Linked DNA regions of Homo sapiens: region 1 is linked to region 2. Evidence: fine-mapped expression QTL. A gene starts in region 2. The other region holds a variant in brackets. All regions are shown on one strand. Distances are between the middles of the regions. Region 1 has its middle 56 kb from the start of LINC00221. Region 2 holds the start of LINC00221 (long intergenic non-protein coding RNA 221).

Region 1 (5,379 bases), 55 kb after region 2:
TCCCCGGGCAATTCCCAAAGCTGAGGTTTCCTCCACTCTTTAGTTTCTAGGGAAACTTCCTGATGTTGCTATGGCATTTGTAAACTGTCATGGCTCTGTGGGGAGTGTCTTTTAGAATGTTAAAGCATAATACTTAGCATATAATGAGCAATGAGGACAAACAGAGGTCACTTTTGTCACCATCTTGGTTTTGGTGGGCTTCAGCCCAGTTTCTTTACTGTAAACTTTATTAGCAAGGTCTTTATGACCTGGATCTTGTGCAGACCTCCTATCTCATCCTGTGACTAAGAACGCCTTAGCTTACTGGGAATGTAGCCCAGCAGGTCTCAGTCTTATTTTTCCTACCCCTTATTCAAGATGAAGTTGTTCTGGTTCCAAAGCCTCTGACACAAATAATGTAACAGAAATATTTATAATATGAGCATGATTATATTGTCAAATATAAAATAAAATATCATAATGGCAACAATCAATTTTATGTGTCACCTTGACTAGACCACAGTCTCAACTACTCAATCACACACTAGCCTAGGTGTTGCTCCCATGGCTTAACACAGGTGTTAGTAGAGACTGCCATTATTTTTTCCCAGTCATGAAGTCACAAAGAGTGTTTTAGATAATCTAGGTGGTGCTGATTCAAAGAGAGTGTAACAGAAGACCATAGGACTCCGTGGTAGATGGCAGATGCAGGTCTTCCCAGGAATTCCAGCCTGTCTTTCCCGACGGCCAGCAGTATTGACCTTAGGCTGCCCGGGGAGACCCTACGATTACTGTCACCCAGAGCTCACTGCACAATGGAGTGTCCATCCTCAGCTTGTTGTAACCGAGCGAGTTAGAGAGAAACGCCGCACTTTGAGATGAATTCAGGAGTCCTTTATTAGCTGGCAACTGAGAGATGGCTAACGCTGGAAATTCTCTCAGCCCCGAAGAAGGTGCTAGATTTTCTTTTATACTTTGGTTTAGAGAGGGGAGGGGGAGCCTAACTGTAGCATTCTAACAGGAGTAAAACAGGCAAAAAAGTTGAAAGGACAAATGGTTACAGGCAAACAGTTCCAGGTGCAGGGGCTTTAAATTCATCACAAGATGATAGGTGTGGGGGCTCTGGGTGTTATCTGCCAGACACAAATGCAGGGGCTTTAGGGTACCATCACCTGGCCAAATTCCTGGGAACTGCGGACACAGCTTGCCACAGTACCTTATCAGTTAATCGCACTCTTTGAGATGCTGGGAGTCAGCTTAAACAAGTTAAGTCCTTGAGGAAGGGGGTGGGTGAGGAGCCCTTGATGTCTTACAAATGAAGGAGCCAAATGGAGTCTGTTCCAGCTTCCTGAGCTAAGGGAGAGTCTATTCATATTAAAACAAGATAAGGTATCACAAGCTCTCCTCAAAGTCACAGGTGAGAGTCCAAACTTTGTGACAGTGTGAGAAGCATAAGATCAGCTCTACATCAACATCCCATTGGAGAAAACTAGTATTATTCCCTTCATGACTAATGCCTGCTTCATTTTCCAAATGCCTCCATGCACAGAAGACAGCAGGATTTTCCAGGCAATAGTGAGTGAGGAAGACCCCTCAGCCTACCCAGCTCCTGCGGACCTGAGCCTTGGAATTTAGACTACAGAAAACACATCCTCTGTTTTCAGGAAAGAGAAGAAGAAAGGGATCTGTGAGAATCAAGTCTACTGGGAAGGAAAATGGATTAGCAGAAAGAGGGTCAACTGAATCAGTCTGAGTCAGATGTGCCCAGTTTCACAAGATGAAGGGGGATTGCTGTGAAAACCATCAGGTTTTAAGAACCCTGACCCTGGGTGAGCCTCTCTCTTGGCTCCCATCAGAACTCAAAGCCTGTTCTAATCAGAGATTCCCATGGAGGTCTCTGCCCTGAGTCTAATTGGAAAACATTCCCCAGGTTTCCCTGGGATTCCTCAAAACTCTCACCCTGTTGACCACGAAAGGATTATTTCTGCCCCCAAAGTGACACTGTGGCTTCTGTGGAGGTGAGGATGTGTCCTCCTGTTTTAAAAAAAAAAAACAGACACAAAAAGGAAAAAAAAGGTTGCATTTAGAGACATCAAATATTAGTACAGGATTGTAAATCTGGAGAAGTTCCCCGGGGAAATTTGACAATGAGGCCGCCCCAGGCCATCACAGGAAGCCAGCCCTCAGCAGCACCTGCACCTGCCCTGGAGACAGCCCCGTGCTCAGTGTGCTGTCGCCCCCTGGTGGTCCCAAGGGACCCCTGCAGGGAGGTTTGTGTCTGGGCTCACACTGACTTCCCCTCACTGTGTCTCTCGCACAGTAATAAACAGCCGTGTCCTCGGCTCTCAGGCTGTTCATTTGCAGATACAGTGAGTTCTTGGCGTTGTCTCTGGAGATGGTGAATCGGCCCTTCACAGAGTCTGCGTAGTATATGGTACTACCACTACTACTAATGTATGAAACCCACTCCAGCCCCTTCCCTGGAGCCTGGCGGACCCAGTTCATTTCATAACTACTGAAGGTGAATCCAGAGGCTGCACAGGAGAGTCTCAGGGACCCTCCAGGCTGTACCAAGCCTCCCCCAGACTCCACCAGCTGCACCTCACACTGGACACCTGCAAACAAAGAGACACCAAGGTCAGAAACTGCCACACATATCCACTGTTTCTCTCACTCATATCCACACACACTAAATCTCTCTAGTTTTCCATGAATCACCTTCTAAAATAGCAACAAGGAAAACCCAGCACAGCCCCAACTCCATGGTGAGTCCTCTGTGTTCAGTGCTGATCACCAAGTGGAAATGCCTTGGAATCCAGGGCTAAGGCACCTCTCTGAGAGCTGCAGGGTCAGGGTTGGGTTGGTTTTCATCAGTAGAGGGAGGGCCCTATTTGCATATCTCCTACTATATAGCAAGCTCTAGGGTGGGACCCTTGAGGAGTAGGCTGTACCCAGATAAGACGACGGTGCCCTGTAGAAGTTTGCTGGCAATGATTGCATTTGGAAAATATGCTGTCTTATTATGAAATTGTGCTGTGATAAACACTTTGCACTAATCACCCTATTTCATTTTAAATATTCATGTAAACTATGTTCTGTAGGAGACAATATTTTCTCCATTTACAGAAGTGGAAGTAAACCCACACATGGGGGGGCTCTGTATGCGTCTCGGAGCTCATGTCTGGGATGAGTGAACCCCGGTATCTGGCCCTGTGCTCTTCATC[A/G]CTGTCTCTGACATCCCCCTAAACCAACTCCAGGACAAAGCTGGATGTGTCTAGTGTTTTTATCAGAACCCACATTCCGTAATAAGAGCATGTGTGGTTTTGCTGCCCTCCAGCACTCTTCTGAAAATATGGAGAGAACTAGGATCCAGGCACATTAATTTTCAGGTACTTCTGACATTGAACTTATTTTTTCTGTCTTTCTATTACTCTTTCCTTGTCTAAGTTTCCATTTGTTTGCTTGTAAGACATTTTATGAGGCTTAATTGAAAGATAATAAACTTCACATATTTAAAATGTACAACTAATAAAAATGATGTAACTGCTATCATTACCAAGAAAGTGGACAAGTGAATTCTTCTCAACATTTCCCCTTGTTCTGCTGTATTCCTCCTCCTCTCCCCCTCCCTTCTTCTACCATTACCCCAGGCAACTACTTATCTTCATTATTTTACTTCAGATGCATTTTTATTTATCAGAATTTATAAAAATGAAATTACATAGTATATATTCTTATTTGTTTAGCTTATTTTACTCAACATAAATACTTAGATATTTTACCTTGTTGCTCTGTGTATCAGGCATTAATTTATTATAAATGACGGGTAGTATTCCAGTGAACACATTTACCATAATTTGTTTTTCTATTAAGAAGCTTAACAATATTTGTCTGGGCGGCAAGCCACCCAGGTGCTGAGGCAAGAGACTGAGGGCACAAGCTGTTCCAGTGTAATGAAGAGAATATGTAAAATAAGAATAGTTGTACTAGAAATAGGTTATAGATATGATTATATATGAATATCATTAATCATCAGTCTGTAGCATTACTCTTTATTCCAACATTATAATAATCCTTGCTCTACAATTATAACCTAGGAAAAACCAGGCCATACAGCAATAGGAGCTGAAGGGACACAGTGAGAAGTGACCAGAAGACAGGAGTGTGAGCCTCTGTCACGCCCGGACAGGGCCACTAGAGGGCTCCTCGGTCTAGCGGTAGCGCCAGTGCCTGGGAAGGCACCCATTACCCATTACTTAGAAGACCTGGAAAGGGAGTCTCCCTTTCCCCGGGGGAGTTAGAGAAGACTCTGCTCCACCACCTCTTGTGGAAGGCCTGACATCAGTCAAACCTGCCCGCAGCCCTCCAGAGGCCTAAACGTCTCTCTGTGATGCTGTGCTTCAGCGGTCACACTCCTGTTTCACTTTCATGTTCCACTCTGTACACCTGGCTCCGCCCTCTAGATAGCAGTAGCAGAATTAGTGAAAGTATTAAAGTCTTTGATCTTTCTGAGAAGAGAATGGAATAAATAATGACCTAAGCTGTCCTCTCTCTCTCTCCGCCTCGGCTGCCAAACAGGGAAGTGCCCTCTGTCTGGTGGACACGTGACCCACATGACCTTATCAATCATTGCAGATGACTCACACTCCTTACCCTTCCCCTTTTGCCTTGTATCCAATAAATAACAGCGGAGCCAGGCATTCGGGGCCACTTCTAGTCTGTGTCTTGGTGGTAGTGGTCCCCTGGGTCCGGCTGTTTTTTCTTCTATCTCTTTGTCTTGTGCCTTTATTTCTACGATCTCTCATCTCTGCACATGGGGAGAAAGATCCACAGACCCTGTAGGGCTGGCCCCTACATATTTGCATTCTTTTTTTACTCTGGGTCTTATTAAAAATTCTTCTACACAGCTTGGAAATGTACATAGATGAATAATATATTTTACTTATGTTTTACAACAACAGTATCAACAAAAATAGATAAACAGAGGAGCTGGAATTTTGGAATTTTTTTTTTTGAGACAGAGTCTCACTCTGTCGCCCAGGCTGGAGTGCAATGGTACGACTTGCAAACTCTGCCTCCTGGGTTCAAGCTATTCTCCAGTATCAGCCTCCCAAGTAGCTGGGATTACAGGTGCCTGCCACCATGCCAAGCTATTTTTTTTTTGTATTTTTAGTAGAGACAGGTTTTACCATGTTGGCCAGGGTGGTCTCAAACTCCTGACCTCAGGTGATCCACATACCTCAGCCTCCCAAAGCGTTGGGATTACAGGTGTGAGCCACCACAACTGGCCATTTTTTAAAAATAATACTTTAGATACTTGAAGTTTTAAGATAAACAGCAAATGTGAAATCTAGGGAGAGGCAAGTTCTTGTAAAGAGTAACAAAGCTGGGGTATGAGCT
Region 2 (5,379 bases):
CAGCTGCAGCCCTGGGCTCGGCCGCGGCGGCTCCGCGTCCTTCCCGGAGGCGCCGGCGCGAGGTCCTCACACCCAGGCGGCTCAGTGGAGGCGCAGCAGCCCAAGGAGCGCGGCCCCCAGCGCCCGCGCCCATCCTGGAGAACTGCATCTGCGCAGGCCCAGAGCGTCCTCCTGGAGCAGGCGAGCCAGGATGGCGCCTCCTCGCTCCCAGCAGGCGCCCCCACGCGGCCCGTGCGGAGCCCAGCGACCAGAGCCGCGCGAGCCTGTGGGGAGCCTGTGGGGAGCCTGTGGAGGCCTGGGCTCCACCGCCTTCCCCACAGCCAGCAGCAGCTTGTGCCGCCCGCCTTCCCCTGGCCAGGTCTTCCTGCAGCTGGCGCCGGAGGCTGCGGAGGGAGGGCCCAAGGGTTCTTTTCAGAAGACTGGCTTTTTATGAATTTTAACACAATATGTACAAGCTGCGTTCGTTTAATAACGCTGCTTCCGTCATACACTGGCAACTTAACACCTGAAAAGATTAGATGTTATAAATAGGACTTGTTCATCCTTTATACACAGGATATCCATAGATAAATAAAACAAACACACAGACAGAAGAGATGATCATTAATCTCTCCTCCCGGTGCGCACAGAGGCCTGGAAGTCTGCACTTTCTCCTCCTCTCTCCTCCCCTGAACCAGAGCACAAACGCAATGTGTGTTGATCAAGCAGGGATTTGGCCATCCTCCCCACCCCCCACCAACATCAAAATAAAATAAAACACTGCATATGAATTTTAACAAAAAGATATTTACAAAATTTATTATTTTACCACCTGTAATTTTAACATACATCAGGCACTTCAGAACATCTAGAAAGACTAGATATTTCAAAAGAATACTTAGAATTTCCAATGATGTATACAATAGCGAGGAATAAAACGCACACAAGAAAACAATGACAATGATATGAAAATGTCTTCTAAATATGAGCAGCCTGGCATGGAACCCTCTTCCCTTCCTGCCCAGGTCTCCCCTCCATGTCCTCTCACCCACTGAACGAACGTGGACGTGTGGTTACTGTGTCCCTTCCAGGGGTGGTCTAATAACACCATTTCAAAATGTCATTTCCAGAAGACACCCCTTTGCTATGATTTTTTTAAAAAGCACATGGTAACTTACGGCCAGGCACGGTGGCTCACACCTGTAATCCCAGCACTTTGAGAGGCCAAGGTGGGTGGCTCACCTGAGGTCAGGAGTTCAAGACCAGCCTGGCCAACGTGGCAAAACCCCATCTCTACTAAAAACTACAAAAATTAGCCAGGCGTGGTGGTGCACACTTGTAATCCAAGCTACTCGGGAGGCTGAGGCAGCACAATTGTTGAAACTCAGGAAGCAGAGGTTGCAGTGAGCCAAGATCCTGCCACTGCACTCCAGCCTGGGCGACAGAGTGAGACTCCGTCTCAAAAACAAAAAACAAAAAAACGAAAAAAAACGGAAAACAAAAGACAAGCACATGGTAACTTACAAGACATGTAATTTTCTGACTCTGTCATACATTTGGGAACCTCCTTATATCTAGGCGGATTAGATGCAGCAAATGTTTTCTTTTAAAAGGTCAGGGAAAGGTCGAGCGGAGCTTTTTCATGTGTTACGCACAGGCCTTCTAGAAAGGGCTGGTAAAGTGTGGTGGGCATGTCCAGTGGGACAAACTTGGAAGGTTCTTCTCTGTTTCTCCCCATCCATGTCAAGGTCTTGTAGAAGAACGATCACCATCCGGTGGCCGCTACCCGTTCCCCACATCGTCTTCCAGGACTCTACTAACATTTCTTGCCCTAAGGCCTTTGAACCTTGCCAGGACTGGCAGGGTCCCTTCCAACATGGACAGGAGTCATCCCAGGATTCGGAGCTTCGGGGCTGCATGGCCTGAAGAGAAAGCGGATCTAAGTCCTAGACCCCGCTTCCTGGCGACCCCACGCGTCCCCGGAACTCCCACGTCCCAGCTGCCCCCTCGCATCCCTGGACCGCCCACAACCCGCCAGCCCCCGCGCGTCCCGGACCACCTGCATCTCAGCTGCCCCCGCGCCTCTCCAGACCGCCCACGTCCCAGCTGCCCCCTGGCATCTCCGATCGCCGACGTCCCGCCATCCCCCGCGCGTCCCCGGACCGCCCACGTCCCATCAGCCCCGCGCCTCCCGGACCGCCCACTTCCCGACAGCCCCCGCGCATCTCTGTGGCAGCTGCTCCGTGCTTCCCGCCCCGCCGCGCCCGCCCACCCAACGGCGCTGTGTCCCGCCGGTAGCTCAGCGGGGACTTCCTTTATGTGGTACAGGGTTGGGCCTGGAGACCCGGATGCCGGCGAGGTCCTGGCTGGGAGAGGCCGCCGCTGCCTTCAGGTTTCCGAGGTGGGTAGAGAGGTTCCCGCTGCTTTGAGGTCAAGGCTCCTCGGTGGCAGCCACAGCAAAGGCTCCAGTGTCCGCCGCAGGGCAGAGGCCGGGCCTGTCTGGGGACCCCCGACTCATCTGAGGCTCAGGGCGGAGGGTCCAGTGAACTGACCTTGCCCCGCTTCTCACCACGCGCCCAGTGTCACTGTATTCAGCCACCACTGCACAAAGGCGGCACAGCTCTGTGCCCTGAGAAGCCCCTCATTCCCTCAGTGACTCCACAGGGAACACCGGGTGGGCCCCTGGATTCACAGCCCTGTAGCACGCTGCCCAAGGGGCCCCCTTGCTCTCCCACCACCCAGAACACCGAGCCCGTTGTCAAGGCTGAACCATCCGCGGGCAGCTGGGACCAGGGAACATGGTGAGGGGCTCACGGCACCTGGCGTGCAGATCCCAGTAGCTGGATGCGGTTCTGCTAATCACTAACAGGCTTGCAGGCTTCCCCAGGAATCCACCCATAAACTTCACAGAACACCGTGTCTGTGAACCACCCAGTATGTGCATTCAGTTTCTAACCTCACTCTGGTCCGGAATCTGCCACCTGCAGGATCCAATTAACAAGAGAGAGATCTGGTACAAAGATTATTGTATTAACCATAATGGTAAAGGGGAAGTGACCGCATTCCCATCCCAAGCAACCACTTGAATTTTGAAGGAAAGGCAGGGGTTTAAAAAAGGAAAAGTTGGTAAGAAAGGCATGCAAGATTTGGGCTGAGAACCAGGTCTGTGCGTCTTGTTCTGGCGGCTCTCTGGCATCCCAGTCCACCTAGATCTTGGGCTGGCATCATCTGGGCAATGCCTGGGTTGTTAACTAGCAACATTGAAGTCACCTCTGGAATTCTGCATCAGGGTCTCCCGACTTTGTCTATCTGTCTCAAATTAGCTTCCGGAACTTCCAAAAAGGCACATAGTTCGATGCAAACATAAAGTTAGATTAATGTGAAGGGAATATTTATGGTGAAAGGGAGAAAGGTGGAGTCTATTTCAAGGCGTAAGAAAATTGATTCTGCTGTTTGCCTCAAGATTATATCTTTACACCCAAGAGAGACAGAAAAGTTTAACCTCTCTTCTGCCACCATGTATGACTGCCTTGCTTCCCCTTTTTCTTCTGCCATGATTATAAGTTTCCTGAGGCGTCCCAAGCCATGCAGAACTGTTTGGTGTGGAGATTACTGAAGAAGGGTTTTACTTACTACTTGACAGAATTCCCCTTGGTGAAGAGGAAATGTCAGAGATCTTTAATTCATGACGATGTTGGATTATTGGCAGTTGGCTCACTAAGGATCCCATGTCCAAGAGCAGGATTCTCCTTCCAAAGTGTGGGTGTGGACTTGAGGAGCAGCCTTTGAAAGATGGGGCCCCTAGAATTTATAGAACTTCCTTTGATTCCTTGGAGGTTTGCAGTCTCCAGGTTGTCTGTCATCCAGGACTTTGACTGTTTGTGTGAAAGAGTGCTTCCTTTTGGGTGAAGAATTCTGTATGAATATCCTAGGGCTGCCAAAATGAAATACTACAAACTGGGTGGCTTAAAAATGACAGGACTGTATTCTCTCACAGTTCTAGAGACTAGAAGTCCAAAATCAAGTGTGAGCTGGGCTGCACTCCCTCTGAGACTCAGGAGAATTCTTCCTTGCCCTTTCCTCACTTGTGGAGGTGACTGGTAATCCCGGACATGCATTGGTTTACTGCTGCACCACTCTGATCTTTGCCTCTGCTGTCATATGGCACACTGTATGTCTCTGTCTCTGTGTCCAAATTTCCTTGTACTTAGAAAGACACCCATCTTCCCACATTGAGGGCCTGCCCTGCTCAAGTAAGACCTCATCTTCACTAATAACATCTCCAGCTACCATATTTCCAAATAAGGACGTGTTCTGAAGTGCTGGTTGTCAGGACTTTGACATATCATTTGGGTACACAGTTTAATACATGACGAACCCCGTTACAGAGCTACCATGTCTAGTGTCTTACACATTTTGTTTGGAGGGGGAGGGTAAAAATAACAATGGACTCCTGTGTGTTCTCTGACGATAGCAATACCAATAGCTACCATGTAATGCCTATTAGTTGTTAGGTACTAAATATTAACTAATTTCATTCTTACAACAACCCTACTTTACATATGAGAAAACTGGGGTACAGGAAGTAACTGGCCCATTGTCCTCCAGTTAGCAGTGGCAGAGACGGTATACAAAGCCAGACTTCCCAGCTCCAGAGGCCGCATACTTAATACCACCCTGCCTTCTGGACAGTCAGGACAAGCAATTATGCCTGTGGTAAACATACTGTGCTGACAAGTAAGGTTACACTTGAAATGTGGCTTACAATGCAAGGTATAGAGATTACAGGCAATTCATGTGTTCTGGTTATTTGTTGCTATTAAGTCTGAATTAAAATGTAAGTGTGAAATTTCAGGTTTCAGGGAGTATAAAAAATAATATTAAAACCTCAAATACTAAGTTTAAAATGCATTTTGAAATTAAGCTGCCTGTATATCATTCCCCACTGTCAAATTCCATTTCGTTTCTATGGAAAACATGTGTCATAGTCATTCTGGCTACTTCTTTAGAAAGGGCATAGGTTGTATGTATTGGAAGGGAATCCATTAAACTGGAGTTGGAAATATTCTGGAGTCTCCGGAATTACAGTAGGTGTTTGTTGGAGCATTATGGTGCAAGGACCTAGGAGTTTTTGAGAAGGTCAGTATTACATTCTCACTTAAAGTGCAAGATAGCAATAAAATCCATAGCAATTGAAGATAGCAATGAACAGAATACCAGCTCTACTATATATGAAACTCTTCCATGTGTTAGGAAGTCAACTAAACCATGCTGTCATGGGGTTCTGAGAGAGGGCATCCATCTCTAGCAGAAATATGGGTATCTAATGCTTGCATAGCTTGAGTTATATTGTGGGACTAATCTTGTATATATATGCAACATTCAGTGTTCATTAATACA

What was found. PIP is the estimated chance that this variant, and not a neighbour inherited with it, causes the effect. A credible set is the group of variants that fine-mapping cannot tell apart.
Region 1: its variant is the best candidate, but not a certain one, in a credible set for the expression of LINC00221 in whole blood (TOPMed, PIP 0.70).

The regions. Positions count from the first base shown.
Region 1 is chr14:106,535,523-106,540,901 of GRCh38, forward strand. It overlaps IGH and IGHV3-48. Among named protein-coding and RNA genes, the nearest start is that of LINC00221, 56 kb to the left of the region's middle. The variant A/G (reference allele first, on the strand shown) is at 3,204.
Region 2 is chr14:106,480,258-106,485,636 of GRCh38, forward strand. It overlaps LINC00221 (long intergenic non-protein coding RNA 221), which reads left to right and starts at 2,182. Exons shown (of 3, transcript NR_027457.2): 1 at 2,182-2,380. It also overlaps IGH.